Linked DNA regions of Homo sapiens: region 2 is linked to region 1. Evidence: fine-mapped expression QTL. A gene starts in region 1. The other region holds a variant in brackets. All regions are shown on one strand. Distances are between the middles of the regions. Region 1 holds the start of SLC4A7 (solute carrier family 4 member 7). Region 2 has its middle 76 kb from the start of SLC4A7.

What was found. PIP is the estimated chance that this variant, and not a neighbour inherited with it, causes the effect.
Region 2: its variant is fine-mapped to the expression of SLC4A7 in whole blood (INTERVAL, PIP above 0.99).

Annotation. Positions count from the first base shown.
Region 1 is chr3:27,482,920-27,485,828 of GRCh38, forward strand. SLC4A7 (solute carrier family 4 member 7) reads right to left here and starts at 1,465. Exons shown (of 26, transcript NM_001321103.2): 1 at 1,148-1,465. The coding sequence starts at 1,207. RefSeq lists enhancers at 204-263, 424-633, 664-723, 739-1,515, 1,994-2,123 and silencers at 894-963, 994-1,353, 1,384-1,863.
Region 2 is chr3:27,558,989-27,561,897 of GRCh38, forward strand. No RefSeq gene overlaps it. Among named protein-coding and RNA genes, the nearest start is that of SLC4A7, 76 kb to the left of the region's middle. The variant A/T (reference allele first, on the strand shown) is at 1,558.

The DNA.
Region 1 (2,909 bases):
ACGTACTGAACTAATGAATGACTACTTTCCATAACCTTAACTATAATCCTAAAAGTTAAAAGGGAAAGCCGGCAGGCAGTTTTAAAGACAACTCTTGAATAAAAACATAGGAGAAGTAATTTTCCTCTTAGTTGTGAAAGACCGGACAATTTTCCCTGCAACCTTCCCGCCTTTGCTGGTTGCATAGTAAAAATTAGAAGTAGGAAAATTTAGAATACTTCCATCTCCTTTGAGTCACGAACTTGGAAAGGAGAAAGAGACAACTGCGGGGACGCATGTGCTCTAAAGAAAGCAGGAAGTCCGCTTCTTGAGCATGGGCCGTTCACCCATCATCACAAATGGGAACACCGGCCTTAAGTCCATCCCCATTCTCTTCTAACCCTGAAATCAAAGCCAGTCTCAGTAGGAAACGCGATCTTGCTAGCTGAGTTAGAGAAGGAGCACCAGACAGCTCAGGACACCCTCCTCCTTCTACTTGGCCTGCGGCAGGAGGATACTCCCCGGGTCCCAGCCAGTGGAGAAGGCGGACCCGGCAGGCAACAGCGAAAGAGCCTTGGCCGGGAAGGAGCGCGGCCAGTCCACGCGGCCGGAGAACTCACCGAACAAAGCGCACCGCGGAGCGGGAGGGGACACTCGGAAAGAGGGGGAAAGATTCAACCAGCTCTTCACCACTGCCTGGGGCTAGAGACAGGTGGAGCCGCCGTCCTCCTTAGAAGGAGAAGAAAGATAGGTTTTCGAGGGCTAATCTGAAACTCCTGCGCCAAGGCAACCGGAACCGGGACCCCGCCTGGGGAGCGCGCTAAGAAACAGGGGAGGCGAGCGCTGAGGGAAGGGATGGATGGTCGGGGTCACAGGCGGCCTCTGCGGGGATGTCGGGGTCCCGCCTGAGCCGCGCAGAGGATGCCCGCGGCGCGCCGCCGGCCGCCCCGACTCGGGCCTCCCGAGCGCAGCCGCTGGCCCCCTCCCACCCGCGCCCCAGGCCGCCACACAAAGGGGATGGCGAGGCGCGCCGGCCGCCGGGAGGTGGAGGGGCGACGGGCCTGGGACGAGGTGGCCGAGCCGCGACGCCCGCCGCGCCCCCCGCCTTTGTCTGCCTCGCCCCGCGCCCTCCCCCTGCGGAGGAGCCCCACCGCCGCGGCGCCCTCACCCTGCTCGTTACCCGGGTGAGTAGCGGTCTCATCTGCTCGCCGGCCCCATCAGCCTCCATGGCCGGCCGGCCAGCCCGTGACGGCCGCTACGGTACTGCCCCGCGCGGTCTGCCTGCTTCTGCCGCTGCCCCTGCCGCCGCCGCCGAGCCCCCGGCGCGCGAGGACAAACGTGGGTGCGTCCGTGCGCGAGGTGTGCGCGCGTGGGGAGAGCCGGGCGCCGGGCGCGGGAGACGCGGGGCGTGCGTGTGCGCGCTGCGACTGCTGGGCTGGCTTTAGTAGGAGAGCGAGGCCGCGGCGTGGAACCTGAAGCTAGAACTGAGCGAACCGGCGGACCGAGCGGGAAGGAGGAGAGCCGCGTAGGAGGAGGGGTTCGGGGGCGGAGCCGCAAACCGTGACGAGCCCGGCGCCGGGGCCAGGCAAGACACGCCCCCCCGCCCCGCCTCCTCGGGTCACGCCCCCTGCCAGTCTGGCACCGCCAGCCTCCTCAGCGCGCCCGCGGGCCGCGCCGCTAGGCCACCGGGAGATGGGGCGGGAGGGAGGCGGGACGGACATTTGTCCCAGCCAATCGGCGGCTGGCGGACTTCCGCTCGCCTCCCCCGTGCCACCTCCTCAGGACGCACCGCCCCTCTTTGTATAAGCTTAATTGACCGAAGCTGAGCGTCTAACTAGTTTTTCAAGTCGGAAGCTCCCCTGACGTTCTCAATGGGGTGGGGGGTCACCACCTCCCTTGGCTCCTAACTACATTCTTTAGAGGCTGCAGGGAAGGAGGACGCCACCTCTGTCAAGGACGCCCAGGATAACCCTCCGAAGCAACTAACGAGTCTTCACGACTCCTGGAAGTTTCTTTTCTGTCAATCCAGTAGGCACGAACCCCAACTCAGGGACCGTGAAAGATGGGGTACACTTGACCAGGTGTCCTCCTGTGCTTGCTCGCCCACTGAGCACCACGACAGCTGCCACTTTTTTTTTTTTTTTTTTTTTTTTTGAGACAGAGTCTTGCACCAGCCCAGGTTGGAGTGCAATGGCATGATCTCGGCTCACTGCAACCTCCGCTGCCTGGGTTCAAGCTATTCTCCTGCCTCAGCCTCCTGAGTAGCTGGGACTACAGACGCGCGCCACCACGCCCGGCAACTTTTTGTATTTTTAGTAGAGACGGGGTTTCACCATGTTGGTTAGGCTGGTCTCGAACTCCTGAGCTAAGGTGATCCACCAGCCTCAGCCTCCCAAAGTGCTGGGATTACAGGCATGAGCCACCACACCCGGCCAGCTGCCACATTATTGAGTCCACCCTGTAGGCCGTCTCTCAAATATCCCTTCTGTAACGGGATGATTGTAATACCTGCCATGCAGGCTCATTGAAGGATTAAGGGGATTTATATTCATAAAAGTGCCTGGCACATAGCATGCTGATAATTTTCATTATTGTTAACAGGTTTCTCTTGAGTGTTTCATAAAGATGAGAAATTTGGCCGGGCGCGGTGGCTTACGCCTGTAATTACAGCAGTTTGGGAGGCCGAGGCGGGCGGATCACCTGAGATCAGGAGTTCGAGACCAGCCTGACCAACATGACGAAACCCCGTGTCTACTAAAAATACAAAAATTAGCCAGGCATGGTGGCAGGCACCTGTAATCCCAGCTACTCAGGAGGCTGAGGCAGGAGAATCGCTTGAACCCAGGAGGCAGAGGTTGCAGTGAGCTGAGATCACGCCACTGCACTCCAGCCTGGGTGACAGAGCTAGACCCTGTCTCAAAAAAATAAAA
Region 2 (2,909 bases), 76 kb after region 1:
TACAGGCATGTGCCACCATGTCCGGCTAATTTTGTATTTTTAGTAGAGACGGGGTTTCTCCATGTTGGTCAGGCTGGTCTTGAACTCCTGACCTCAGGTGATCTGCCTGCCTCGGCCTCCCAAAGTGCTGGCATTACAGGCGTGAGCCACCTTACCCAGCCGAATGTCCTTGTTAATAGGAAATTTACTCTGAAGTATTTAGGAATAAAGGGGCATGATGTCATAAATTTCCTCTCAAATACTTCAGAAAACTGTAATAATTAGATGTGTGTGCATTCATGTGTATGGAGAGAGAGAGAGAGAAGGAAAGAATGATAAAACAAATGCAGCAAAATGTTAACAATTGGTGACATATGGCAGGTTGGGCTGCTATAACAGAATACCACGGACTAGGTGGCTTACACAACAGAAGTCTATTTTTTTTATAGTTCTGGAGGATGGAGGTCCAAGATCAAGGTACAGCATGATCAGGTTCTAATAAGAACTCTCTTCCTGGCTTACAGATGGCTGTCTTCTTACTGTGTTCTCACATGGCAGGGGGGTAGCAAGTTCTCTGGTGCCTCTTCTTCTAAGGGCACTAATTCCATTATGAGACCCAACTCTCATGACCTCATCTAAACCAAATCACCTCCTAAAGGCACCAGGCTAAATACCATCACACTGAGGGTTGGGGCTTTAACATATGAATTGTGGGGAGACACCATTCAGTCCATAGCAGTGAGTGATGGGTATAGTGGAAATTTTGTACTATTTTTGCTACTTCCTGTAAGTTTAGAATTATTTAAAAATAAGAAGGTAAAAGAAAAAAGAAAAAACATTGGCATAAAGTGTTTTACCCAGGTCACGCAGCTGGTGAGTGGTAGGAAATGGTCTTTTCCTATGTTCTTTAGAACCCACTCTCTTAGATGCTGCACGGACACAGATGCTTTGTGACTTCTCATATCCTCTGGCATGGTCCACCTCCTCAATCATACCGCAGCTGAGGACAAACTAGGCCCTCCCCCTTGGCTAGTGCTCTGCAGCTGGATCAAGCAGACGCTCTTCCAGAATGTCTGGCTTCTCCCACTGCTTCCGGATTTGGATGAAATGCTGTGCTGCAGGGCATAGGATCAGATAGGCAAAAGGAAAGAATGATGCAAGCAGGAATGCAAGGTAGTTTCTGCCTGCAGAGCAAACTTTCGCCAATTAGGGCCGTGTGCAGTGGCTCATGCCTGTTATTCCAGCACTTTGGGAGGCCAAGGTGGGCGGATCACCTGAGGTCAGAAGTTCCAGACCAGACTGGCCAACGTGGCTCTACTAAAAATACAAAAATTAGCTGGGCGTAGTGGTGGGCGCCTGTAATCCCAGCTACTCCGGAGGCTGAGGCAGGAGAATTGTTTGAACTCTGGGAGGCAGAGGTTGCAGTGATCCGAGATCGCGCCATTACACTCCAGCCTGGGTGACAAGGTGAGACTCTGTCTCAAATAAAACAAAACAAAACCGCAACAACAAAAAACACACTTTGGCCAACTGGAAGCGGGAGACAGGGTTTCGTCTACCTTCCTCTCTTCCACGGAC[A/T]ACCTCAATGTGAGAGAAGTTCTGTGTGCTGAGCACGCACCCGCACAACAGAGTAAAACATTACTTTATATTGCAATTTTATATTATTATTGCACTTTATATATTACCTTAATATAGTATTATAATATTATAATTATATAACATTAATATATATTAATATATAATATATACATTATATTATTGCACTTTATATTGCACTTTATATATTACTTTATATTGTGCAATATATTACTTTATATTGTACAACAGAGTAAAACATTACTTTATATTGCTCCACATCTTTTCTTGCCCCACTTCCCCTTTTCCCCATCCCAGCTGCTGTGGGTTTGCACTTCTCAAAGGAAGCATTAGCACTTTAATCCCTGCCTTGGGCTCTGTTTTCTAGAGTACTAGGGCTAATTAGAGAAAAAAAAAAAAAAAAAAAAAAAGGGCCGGGCACGGTGGCTCCTGCCTGTAATCCCAGCACTTTGGGAGGCCGAGGGGAGGCGGGCGGATCACGAGGTCAGGAGATCGAGACCATCCTCGCTAACATGGTGAAACACCATCTCTACCAAAAACACAAAAAATTAGCCGGGCGTGGTGGCAGGCGCCTGTAGTCCCAGCTATTCAGGAGGCTGAGGCAGGAGAATGGCGTGAACCTGGGAGGCGGAGCTTGCAGTGAGCTGAGATTGGGCCACTGCACTCCAGCCTGGGTGACAGAGCAAGACTCTGTCTCAAAAAAAAAAAAAAAAAAAAAAAAGGCCGAGCACGGAGGCTCACGCCTGTAATCCCAGCGCTTTGGGAGGCCGAGGTAGATGGATCACCAGGTCAGGAGATCGAGACCATCATGGCCAACATGGTGAAACCCCGTCTCTACTAAAAATATGAAAATTAGCCGGATGTTGTGGTGCGTGCCTGTAGTCCCACATATTCAGGAGGCTGAGGTACGAGAATCAGTTGAACCCAGGAGGCGGAGGTTGCAGTGAGAATTGCACTCCAGCCTGATGACAGAGTGAGACACTCCGTCTCAAAAAAAAAAAAAAAGAAAAGACTATGCTGTACTGCCCCTAATTTGAGCTGAGTCCTAAAGACAGGTAATATTTTGACAGCCAGAAATTTGAGAGAAAGGCAATACAAAAAGAAGGAATGGCTTTATTTATTTTTGAGACAGCATCTCGCTTTGTCATCCAGGCTGGAGTACAGTGGCATGATCATGGCTCATCACAGCCTCACACTCCTGAGCTTAAGCAATCCTCCCACTTCAGCCTCTTGAGTAGCTGGGACTACAAGCGGGTGCCACCATGCCCAGATGATTTTTTAATTTTTAAAATTTTTTTGTAGAGACAAAATTTGCTATGTTGCCTAGACTGGTC